Linked DNA regions of Homo sapiens. The protein of the gene in region 1 binds, or shares a complex with, the protein of each later gene. Each region holds a gene or a part of one and is shown on either strand. Other genes may lie near its edges. The genes, in order: ITGB6 and ITGAV.

Region 1 (7,444 bases):
AGAGTCTTGAAGTATCCTAGTTCAAGATCCTTTATAACTTTCTCCAAGATTTGAAAGTGAGGAAGAAAAGTGAAAAAGATGGGTTAAAAGTCTGCTTTTTGCTGGTGCCTGTAGTCCCAGCTACTTGGGAGGCTGAGGCAGGAGAACGGTGTGAACCCGGGAGGCAGAGCTTGCAGTGAGCCCAGATCATGCCACTGCACTCTAGCCTGGGCGACAGAGCAAGACTCCGTCTCAAAAAAAAAAAGTCTGCTTTTCTGCGTGGGACACAGGAGTTTCCCACAAGGATAGCAGAGGGGCAGTGAGATGTAGTCTTTCCCAGCAGAGATGTGGCCGTTCAAATTCTGAAACACCCAAAACAGGGAGATGGAGCTAATAGATTAAATACCTGTCTTACCTGATAGGCGTGGCTGCTTTAGAGTGGGCATGACACTATGCAAAGGGGAACTTGTTGCCCATTGACTTTCATGCTTAGAGAAAACAAAACCAATGCTCATACTATTTTCCTTGCCTCTTAGAACTCCAAGCCACTCTTGCTGTTTTCATCAACTAGGAAAGTTAGATTTCTTCTGAAATTGATTTTGAGAATACAATTTGTTATCTATCAGTAGGCCTGTGCGTGTCTGAAGCTCTAGGCCAGGCATGGCAAACTGTAACTTCCCATGATGTAACCAAGGGAAACAGTGGCTGGCCAAGGCTTCAGAATCCTTCTCAACACAGTGTCATTGCTATCACCTCTATTCATAGCCTTTGCCAGAAGATCAGAGGTGGTGTTAACCACATGACCTATTTTCTATCTGCCCTAAGCAGAAGCCTAATTTACTTTTTGCTCCAACTGCCTCGACTGGCATCCTCATAACTACTTCTAATATTAGAGTGGCCTCTTAGAATAATTTGGTTTTACAATTTGACAACAATTTGGCTACCAAGTATTATACACAAGTAAAGTTATCAGCAGCAACTTAGGAAACTCTCTTAAGTAAATGCTGAAAAATGCATTTAAATGAAAATTCTAGGCTGATTTGTTGTTGTATCTCTCTGGCATGAAACTAATACTTCTTCAAGAAGTCAATATCCAAAAAACATGTGATTTTTTCCCTTCTTGTATATTCTCAATCCTGCTTTGATACAGGAACTAAAAAAAAGCATAATTCTCTTGAATTTTTTTTGTGGCCGCGTTGGTCAAGGCCGTAGTAAGGGACTGAGCTGTGTCTGTGCTCTCTTGTCTGTGAGGCCACACTTCATGGATACACACTGAACTCGGAGTTTGGGTTTCCACAGGTAGAACCCAGTTCTGAGTTTGGTGTCGAGGTTTGTTGCTCTTTGAGCATGCTACTCAGCTCTTGCTGCACTTGGTATTCGTATGATTTGATTTATGTTTAGATTATCTTTATGAGATCCAGTGCATAGAGACTTGTTTTAAAATTCAGAAAGCTAATGCCTCTCTTCCTTACCATGAATCAGTTAGACATCATTCTCTAGTGTCTTAGGATGGCTTGGTACATAGTCCCCAATCATCTTCATACTGCTTTCATGTAGTTTTCGGTTTGACCAGATAAGGAGTTCCTATTTGGCACTTTGTCACTGGTGTGGTACAGAGTCACTGAGTTTATGAAAATGCCATTTTTAAAGGAACTGGATAATATCTGACCAGTAATATTTGCCCCAAACTTAAAACACATCCCTTAGAATCTAGCAGTAGTTCAGAATGGATCCTGGTACCCAGAGGGAATACAACTATAATATGAACATCAAATGTATGTTTAACTTTAGAAAATATCATCTCCATGAACTCTGATTATCCAGACAGCCTCCATATTTTACATGTAACCTGTAGAAATGGCTTTACAATAAAAGAAGGAACCAGGTAAAATAAAAAAATCCCAAGTTAAAATTTTTTTCCGAATTATTTGACATCCACTCCTTCTACAAATTGTTTTTGAAAGTAATCACATGAATGCCATTTTGATCTACCAATGCTCACCTTCTCCTTTCCTGATTTGTTTTACTTATACAACTCCACAAAAAAGCAAGTCACTATCAGAAATATCACTGAGGAAATTAACATGAATTTAACTGCAGACAGGTTTTAAAAACACATTGAGGTCATTTATTTTACCTCCTGAGCACACCAGGCACACTGAGGTCCAATAAGCAGGCAGTCTTCACAGGTTTCTGCACCTCCCAGGGCACAGCCACCTAGGTTTAGACCCAGCAAGATGCAGGGATTAAGTACACTTTCAGTCATTCCATTTATGAGACTGATGGCTCTTACATTACTTGAACAAAACAACATCAAAGTTTAGTTTAGTATCCAAAATCAGTCCTCGAAATGTTAGCAATTCACATAAAAGTTTGTATTTTACATCTATCACATGTAAAATATGTGTATGTATATTAAAAATTATGTATGTCTTATAAGCCAAAATTATCATGCTCTTTTTTCTTAAAATGTGAAAGTTCACAAATATAGGATTATCCTATTTATTATTCTTAGCCAATGTGTGCCACTTTAATTTTTAAAAATTACTTGCAACCATTAAAAAATGCTTCTTTCTTAAACAAGTTATTTCTGTTTTTGAAATAAATCCTCTTTCTCTTTCAAGATTATTACTCCTAAGTGGAAGATCTTGTGGTAGAATAAAATAGAAAAGTTTCAAAAATGGTTATCATACTGGCACTAAGTTCCATTGGGCAGTAATGTTATTTAATTCTCCTCATTAAAATGCCTGTGCAACCTTTGTATTTATTTACCTTAAGCCTAGAGCATTCACTGTGGGAACTGCCCGGTGTTTGTCTGTAATTTGTTAAAGTGTTCACTCAGTCACAAAAGAGCAATGGAACAGATCAAATAAAACATGACTTCAGATCTAGTTTCTGAACCAAATGACAGGTTTGTCAAGCATACCACGAAAGTAATATATCAGAGAACGCAGGTCTTACCTTGTACGTGATCATTCCTTCCTAGAAATAGAAAGAACAGGCAAAGCAGTTCAATCCCCATTCGTTTCAGTTCTTGCTGTGCAGACCGATTAAAAAATGAATTACCTTCAGCGTTACAAGACCAACGCTGAATATCGTTAAAGTCTTTCTTTCTTGAAGTATAACATTTTAAATACTACTTACACTGCTTTGAAAAGAAACTTGAGATATAAGTTAGAAAGTTTTCATTAAGACTGAAATGAAAACAGAGGCTACCTGGACAGGTAAAGCAGAAAAGCTGTGTTTAAAAGCAACTTCAACATGATTTACTTCCTTGTTCTCCTTATAAGGAAGGCAGGTGTACAATCACCAAGAAGGTGGGGAAATTCATTCAGTAGAAATTTTGGTGTAAGTTCTATGAGTCTCTCTGCATCCTAGAGAAAGTTAATATCTTTAGTGAAATATTGATCAATGAAAAGTCACAACAGCAATAGAAATATAGTCATTTTAAAAATAATTTTAATTTAATGTAAAGAATAAAGATTAAATAAAGCATATAGGCTATATATGAGGAAAGTAAAAAATGAGCTTAATGAAAATGCCTGAGATTTTAGTGTTTCATTGCTAAATCCTTTGCAAAAAATTGAAACGAACCCTGAAAAAGAAAAATTATTATCTTACAGTAAATGAGAAGGAAGGCTAGGGAAAGCAAAGCACTGTTTCCTTATTTTTTCAAATTAGATGAAATATATTTTTCCATAAGTATAAAATTCTTATTTTAAAATTATATTGGAAATAATCATAATATATAAAAATCAAAGGAGATCAAAATAAGAATGTCTCAAAAGACACTGATGACAACAATGATGAAAACAGAAATGATGGTGCCCAAGATTCTGAATCCCTCAGGCTAGGGACCAAGTTCTCTATGCAATGTGCTGTTCCAACCTCTAGCTCATGATTTGGCACATAGGAGATATTTATTTGTTGAGTGAAAGAGTGACAATTCAAAATATATATGATCTATGGCTAAATCCATGAGGTTTTTTGTATTTTTCCCCCAGGGTGTTCTTCAGGAAGGTGTTTTGAGATTTGTAGAGTCTGTGAACAGATAAGAATCGAATTCTCACTTCGTCACTCTAGAAACTGCTGACCTTAGAGAGACTTTTCTGTGGCCAGGCTTATGTCTGAGGAGATTATCTTTTCAAGGAGCATTCCTGGGTAAGCATGTGAAACCTGTAAACAGAGGGAAACGGACTATGGTCAATAATAATTTAATTCTACATTTAAAAATAACTAAAAGACTATAAATGGGTTGTTTGTAACACAAAGGAGAAATGCTTGAGGGGATGGATACCCCACTTTCCATGAGGTGTTTATTACACATTGCATGCCTGTACCAAAACATCTCATGTATCCCATAAATATATACACCGACTATATACCCACAAAAATAAAAACTAAAATAAAATAATTAAAAAAAAAAAACCAAAGAAAGAGAGAAACTAATTATAGACTACCTAGGCTTTTCTCAGAAGCCTATGTTATGTTCAATTTTGAACTCCATCATATCCAAGAAGCTGGAAAAACATGGCAAGAATTTTGCGGTAACAATCCAGAATTATTGAAGAATTGGAAGATATGCATTTTGAGAGAAAATTTATATAAAATTAGTTGATTTAACTTGAAGAAGAAAGATCGAGCCACAAATTGTTTGTGTCTCTGTTATTGTCATTTTAAAAATCCAGTATTAACTATTATTCATTCATTATTCATTCATTCAACAAGTACTTCTTGGGCATTTACTTTCTGTCAAATATTATTTTTGAAGCAGAGGCTACATCAGTGAACACAACCAAGTTTTTGATCCATGCAGCATATATTCTAGGCTGGAGGGCAGTGCAGGGAGATAGACTTCTAAAATCAGGCAGTGCCCAGGGCTATGAATCATAAGTCTGGGTAAAAGGAAAGAGGGGCAAGGGAGTGTGTGATTTTCTTTAGAATAGTCAGGGAGGGTTTCCCTGACCAACTGGCATCTGAGAGAGCCCTAGATGACTTTGACAACACAGCTAACTATGAAGGCCTGAGACAGCCCAATGGCAGGTGTTTTCAAGGGCAAGTGGAATACAAGAAGGGAGAGAGAGAGGGTAATCAGATTTGAGGGCAGAGGTCAGATCATATGTAGTCTTGACCTTGAATTTTATTCTATACCTTGTGTATCACTGGAAAGTTGAAAGTAGAGAAATAATACTATTTAATTTACATTTTAGAAGAACCACACTGGCTGCTGAGGAAGTGAAAATGTATGCGGCAAGATTGGAAGGTGAATGGGGCAAGAGAGGAATGCATGTCTCTGTCAAGAACAGAGATAATCGTGGCTGGGACTAGGATGTTTGTGGTGCAGGAGGAGGGGGTGATCAGATTCAAGATCTATTTTGAAACTGGACTGTGCTGATAGATTGGATGTGAACATGAAAGAAAGAGGTTTCTGTCTGGCATAGATACATTGTACTGGCTGAGTGATACATTTTACTGAGAGGGATTACATTGAGGAAGAATCAGGTTTCATGTGGAGGATGAGGATCAAGAACATGGTAAGTTTGAGATGGCTAGAAGATAACCAAGTGAAGATGCCACATAGGCAGGTTTGATATCTAGGTCTGGAAATGTGGGCAATGTCAAAGAGCAAACTGTAAATTTGGGATTATCAGCATGGGTTTAAAGATATGAGGCTGATGGTGTTCAGAGATATGTGGCTGAATGAGATCCCTCCAGGAAGCGAATGTATATAGGGAAGAGCTCTGAGGACTGAGCCCTGGGGCCTCTAGATATCTGTAGATCAAGAGGAGAAGGATTTAGTAAAGGAAGCTTCTATCTAAAGAACACTTCATCTTGCTAAAGAGGAACCTGTCTTTGTTGGAAGACAAATTCAAGTGTCTCTCACATTTCTGCACATCTTACAAGCAGAGGACCTGGCTGCCTTTTTTCTAGACTCTCTTTTCCAGGATGTTTATAAAGTGAACGGCCTTTGAAAATACAGACAGTGTCCCTCTTTAGGGAAAAGGAAAAATTGCTTACAGCTTTGGAAGATAGAGACAGTGTCAACCTGCAGAACAAAGAGTAGGCCTGTTTACTGCCCATTATAAAAGGTTCAGTTTCCCTAAACTCAAAGTTCTTCTCTTATAACACATCTTACTACATGTGCAGGAGTCACCTCTTTCTTTTGTGTCATCTTGTGGGAAATGGTATTGGGGAACTGTGAAAGAATGTGCTGACACTCTGACCACTGCAATTGCTGTGAATTAAAAAGTTCTTAAAAAAAAAAAATAATTAAAAAGTTCTTTTTCTGTGATGCAGGCATCGCATGTCTCCATCAGTACCCACAAATCCATGACAAGCTAACTTGTCAGCTTGCAAGTCAGGTAAAAGCCCAGGCCCTTCATAGTTCTTGACAATTTCCCACACAAAATCCACCTTTGTCTGGAGACTGAACATGCAACTTTCAAACCTCACTTTGGAAGAAAAGATCTTACATCCTACAAAACTGCCTTGGACTGACAAGTGCTGCCCTGGGCTCCAGAGGTTTCCCCAGGTCTTGAGTTGCCTGTCTGCCCATAGACCTCCCTGGCAGCCGCTAGCAGGCACTCTAGAGGAGCTGGATCGGGGTGGCTGCCCAGCTCTGGATATGCCAATCCCTGGAAACTCTCCATGGTTCTAGCTGCCACCAACAATCTCTCCTTCCTGAGAACACAGTTAGACTACCTCTCCTGGCCTGTTTTGCAGCTAAGAAAATCCCAACAACCAGCTCTTGCCAACAGAATACGAGTGGAAGTGGTACATACCCCTTCTAGATCATCCTCATGTCCCTCTGACAACCAGATGCAGGCAGCAACAAGGTCCTAGAACTCTAAAACCACAATTTGACCATGTATTTAAATGGACTTGTGCCATCCCACATAAAGACTTCCATCTCAGTCCTAGAATCATAATCACACTGATTGATTTATTCTCTGTCCCCCATGGCTGCCCCTCCAGTGCACACCCTCCCTAATTTTCAGGCCTTCACACAAACCATTTGTTCTTCCTGCAGGCCTTGGGTTGCCTCTCATGCCTCTCACTTGGCTAATTCAGCTTGCCCTCCAGGTCTCAGTGTAAACATTAGTGTCTGCAGGAAACACTTTTTGGTTTCTCTAGGCCTCCCCTCCTGTGGACATTCCCCAGAATAGCCATTTTTGCTCTGCTTGTAATTGTCAAAATAGTTGCCTTTACTCAACAAATATTTATTCAATTCTTGCTATGTATCAGACAGCGACTGTGTCTCAGGAATCTTTCTATTCCTAGCAAGTAACACAATGCCTGGCACTTTGTAAGTAGTCAATTAATGTTTATATTGAGAATATGGGTGAATTTTAAGTCTTCATTGTCTAGTATTTCACCAGTTACAAAGCAGGTACTTCATGGATATTGAGTAAACAGATGAGTAAATGAAAGAATGGTTTAGGAAGGTAAATAATACAATTAGGAA
Region 2 (4,648 bases), about 26 Mb from region 1:
TCTTAATTGGAGCCAAAATATCAAGTATGGTGGTCAGGATAGGGGTAGTTATGACTTGCTGGTCCAGGGGAAATATCACATCTAACTAAGCATATAGTGTTAGAAGTAAGGACAGTGGTTACTTTTGCAGGGCAGGGTGAGATATGATTAGAAAGAGACAGAAGGGGGCTTGTGGATGCTGGCAATACTCTATCTTATTTCCATAGGAATTTACGGTGGTGTATTATGCTACTTCAGTATAATTTCCCAAGCATCTCAACACTTAATTTTCTTCTTGGTACTTTTCATTTATAAAAATAGGTATTTTTATACTAGAATTGCATATGTATATTGCAACTGCATATATGCAATGACATATATACACTATAATTAAAAATTATAAAAGATGTAAATGTGCATTTTAAAAGGAATCTGATAATGTAAAAATAATAAAGGTTAGCATAATGAATTTAGAAATGTTTGTTTAGAAATAAAATAATTCTTATATTTCAGGCAAATACATATTTGCCTTTCTAAGGATGAATTTTAATGTGGTACATTTTGCTCTTTTTGTGTTTCTTTTCATCAAATAACTGACATTCAAGATTTGAAGTTTTACAGAAAGTTACCTCTGAGGTCATCCTTTTAGTGCATTATTGCTAGCTCATGTAATCAAAAAACAAAAACACGTCACAGAAAGGATAAACCCCATACACAAAAGTGGTACCATATGCTTATGTTTATTGTACAGTCACAAGTTACATGTTGTAAATCAAGCAGAACACTGTACCAGTTTTCACTAACTCAAATCAAGTTAGCAAATTACAAATTTTAGAACAGATTCATTTTCTGTCTCACCCAATGTGGGTGACCACAAAGATATTTACTTTCTATGTTATTAGGTAGCAAATTAATTTGATATACTACACAGCTTCCAAGTTACCTTAGGATATTTCAAAGTGTTTCAAAACTGGTAAAGAATAATTCATTTCCAGCCTGAAATACAATGCAGAATGGACCATTTAGGGGTAAATAACCTCACTTAATCACTCTTTCCTGCTAACAAAAATAATACAAATATTTGTTTATATTAGGCTTACTAAATTAATGACAACTTTGAAATTATCTAGATTTGGTTACATTGTTATATTGCACTTGAGAACAATGACAAAAAACATCAAAGATTCAGTACCTCTCCCAAGAAGTTCATTATATATCAGAAATTAAAATGAAATATAAGCATATATTGCATGCTGCATATTTCTATCGTTCAAACCAGCCAACCAACAAACTAAAAGGAATACTCTCCAAAACACTGAGTATTAAGTAATTTCATCTGCCTTTTTTGATCCTACAATCATTTTTCAAATTTTAGGTGTTTTTCTTTAAATTATTCATCAAACTACTACATATACAAGCTATCCAAGAATGCAAACAAGGTGACATTGAGATGGGTAGTGGCTGCACATAGGTATTCCAAGAACGACTCATTCTTCTCCACCAAGCTCATCATTACATTTTGCAACTTAGGAAGATCTGCCAACTTACAAATTCTGTTTGCCTTACAAAAATCGCTGATCTATTATATACAATACTTTTATCACACAAATCTCTCCCTTAGGGTCATGATTCACTATCAAAAATCTTTCACAGCCCTCTTAAGCCAGTAAAGTCTCTTTTATTAATACTTGAGTTTTCTTTATGGAAATGTAAGTGTTAATGAGAATTAACTATGAATAAGTAGTTTCATAACACAGGTAGAATGATGGCAATAATATTTTGACTAATTGTTTTACCTTTCAGATTCAGAATTACAGTGATAATCGTTAAGAGAAAAGAGAAACAGAAAAAATGACTCACATGTATTTTTCTCAAAATATCAATTCTGAAATAAATACCTATATAAAAATCAATATCAGTATCAATATTTCTTACCAATGTCAAATGTTTTTAATATCTTCTAGTTCATTCATGTTTTCTTAAAACTGAATCAGATCATAAAAATTTTACATTTCAAAATGGATTTTTATTCTCAATAAATCACAAATATGGTAGTATTTCAAATGTTTTAGAGATTTAAAGTTTTCATAGGGCAATTTTTTGATATTTAATCATGATAAAAAAAAATCCCACCATTTTCTTCAGAAAGTAGGCTTTCAAATTACTCTTCTCCATATTTTTGTAGATATATAAATGTTCATTTTTTGAAGGAAAATCTATGCTATTATACAAAACTATATTTCATAAAGGTAATTTAAGATATCATGTTAATTTCTAAATTACAGCATCTTTCAATCTCCAATACAAGATTACTTTCAAGATAGATGCCATAAAAGGAATAGATGGCACAAAAGCAAATTCTAACACTTTTGCCAAAGAGTGACTTTCTATCCAACATATTTTCAGAAATGACTGTTACTAGGTGGTAAAACTGTTAGGGTAAAATTTGTTATAGACTAACTTACTGATTGGTGGCAGGCAACACTTGGCCCTAGGATAAAAATATTTTTCTTAAAAAATTTTAAATTTATTGGTAATAAAAATACTTACTGCATATGATTAAGCTCTTTCAAGCTACTAATAAAAATCTATACTCCAAGACCCATTACTTTTGAAATTCACTAAAGCTAAAATAGAAGGTTTTGTCTAGAGTCCTACCTTGTATACCTCAACTAAATGTGCTCCTATTTTACGAATATATTCTCAAGATTAGCTCAGTCAACTTGTGCATGAAATTATGAGATATGGCAAGATAAATTTCAATCATTTTTAAAACACAGCAAAATAGTCAATTATTTAAGGGAAATATTTATCATTACCTAATGAGGACAGCAGTTAAAGAGCTATTAAACTCTCCATTTCTAATGTACAACATGATGTAATTGCACAAAAATAGGTATAACTGATCATCATCCCCAGGCCTTGAGGAACTGTGAATAAATCATATATTCCTCTAGAAGGTTCACCACTCTACAGAGCCATATAAAACTACAACTTGCCACCTATGTGGCTTTTATTAATAATCCTAGAAAAGTAATTTATACTAACGAACTTCAGAAAGGTTTAAAAGGTTTTCAGTAACTTGAACTGCTTATAAAAATACCTTTTAGAAGTTATTCTGACAGCCGAGACTGATTTTACACATTACCTTGCTTAAACAGAGGTAATATTCCTGTAACATCATGCTATTGCTAGAAGTAAATCAGTGAGTTGCCTTAAGAGTTTTTATTCCAAGCATTACTCATAAAGTTGGGGTAAGGGGTCCAGGTTCCTGTCAACTGTAAAGATTTCTCACTGATCTTGACCCATTCTCAGTAACAGTTTTGGAAATATAAGGAAAAGTACATGAATGGAGGAAAATAAATTAATACTAACTAAAAACTCTGCTCTACTCTAAGAATGTAATACTTACTATATGCATAAGCAACTATCTCAAAGAACTACACAGTATTTTAATAAAAATGCTTTTTTTATACTGTAAATAGCCAGACTAAAACAATGGAATAAATATGCTTTGGAAATAATTTCCAACTCCATATGGCTTTAAGCATTATGATATTCAGGTGAAATTAAACAATTACACAAAAGAGCCATTTGTGATTATGGAACTAATTTTTAGTATAGGTTGGCTTGAAGGATTTGACCTAAAATTTATACAAGTTAAAAATGTAATAAAATATTGTGGATTTAATATAAACAGAAGTGTAATAGGATCTACCAGATTTTCATACTAAAACAAAATATTGTACCTTTGTTATTAAAAGCAAGAATTTGGATGGTATCATGTATGTGTTTATAAAATTCTACCATATGAGTGATTAAAAAAATCCAAGTTCATGCAGTTATAAAGTCTTTAGTATTCTGAAAAGTAAACTGTAGTGTAATATGTATTAACATTAAGTACCTATACAAAAGACATGATTGCTAAGGTCCAAATTTGGACTGCTTTAAAACAACAACAACAACAACAACAACAACAACAAATAAAGTTCCGTACATTAAATCAGAAACAGTAACTGAAGGAGGTACTATTTTATATAAAGTAGTAAATCAGGCACTACCTGTCTTATATACATTGAATAAAAACTATCCCTTGAAATTTTATTATTTAAATACCTAAAAACACAAGTCACCCTATGTTATTAAATGTATGTCTGAACTTATTTATAAGGAGAAGGTTGACAAATATAATTCTCATTTTGTGGTTAATGCCAATTAGCACTATCAGCAGTAAAGCCTTGGATTTTTACTCCTCATGAAGAAAGTTTAAATCTATAATAAAGTTGCTAATTCTAGTGGGTCAAGATGTAGCATAACTTAAAAACTGCAGTTAAGTTTCTGAGTTTCCTTCACCATTTTCATGAGGTTGAAGCTGCTCCCTTTCTTGTTCTTCTTGAGGTGGCCGGACCCGTTTAAAAAAGCCCATCTGTCAGTTGAAGAAAAACCATTATTACTGTCACATCAGTGTAGAATACGAAAAGTATTTTTTGGGTGACTATATTACCACTAAGAACATTTAAATTGTATTTCATAAAATTTATCTTCCCTCATATAATAAGTAATGCTCATCAAGTATCATCATTACAGTCCCTTTCTTCCTTCCCTTACTTTTCATTCTTCTTTTCCTTCTTCCCTTTCCCTTTTCTTCTGCTTTCCCTCTCTCCTTCTT

What was found.
Region 2: the proteins of ITGB6 (region 1) and ITGAV are in contact, whole or in part, in a crystal structure (PDB 9CZA), measured with the Homo sapiens proteins. Residues at the interface, in NP_000879.2 of Homo sapiens: Ser183, Pro184, Phe185, Lys187, Thr188, Thr189, Pro190, Ile236, Asp237, Thr238, Pro239, Asp273, Ser274, His275, Phe276, Gly277, Met278, Asp279, Lys281, Leu282, Ala283, Gly284, Val286, Pro288, Glu308, Thr311, Ile312, Gly313, Gln314, Ile316; in NP_002201.2 of Homo sapiens: Tyr48, Phe51, Lys72, Trp123, Leu141, His143, Gln150, Glu151, Arg152, Pro154, Asp178, Ala179, Phe184, Gln186, Phe189, Pro204, Tyr208, Trp209, Asp249, Tyr251, Tyr254, Pro274, Arg275, Arg278, Thr279, Met302, Ala303, Tyr305, Phe308, Pro328.

What each region holds. Positions count from the first base shown.
Region 1 is NC_000002.12:160,197,063-160,204,506, forward strand, and holds the start of ITGB6 (integrin beta-6 isoform a precursor), read right to left. Parts: upstream 3,211-7,444; 5' UTR 3,002-3,210; coding exon 2,941-3,001; intron 2,197-2,940; coding exon 2,117-2,196; intron 1-2,116. UniProt on the Homo sapiens protein: Integrin alpha-V:beta-6 (ITGAV:ITGB6) is a receptor for fibronectin and cytotactin. It recognizes the sequence R-G-D in its ligands. Internalization of integrin alpha-V/beta-6 via clathrin-mediated endocytosis promotes carcinoma cell invasion.
Region 2 is NC_000002.12:186,676,954-186,681,601, reverse strand, and holds the end of ITGAV (integrin alpha-V isoform 1 preproprotein), read right to left. Parts: intron 4,406-4,648; coding exon 4,310-4,405; 3' UTR 701-4,309; downstream 1-700.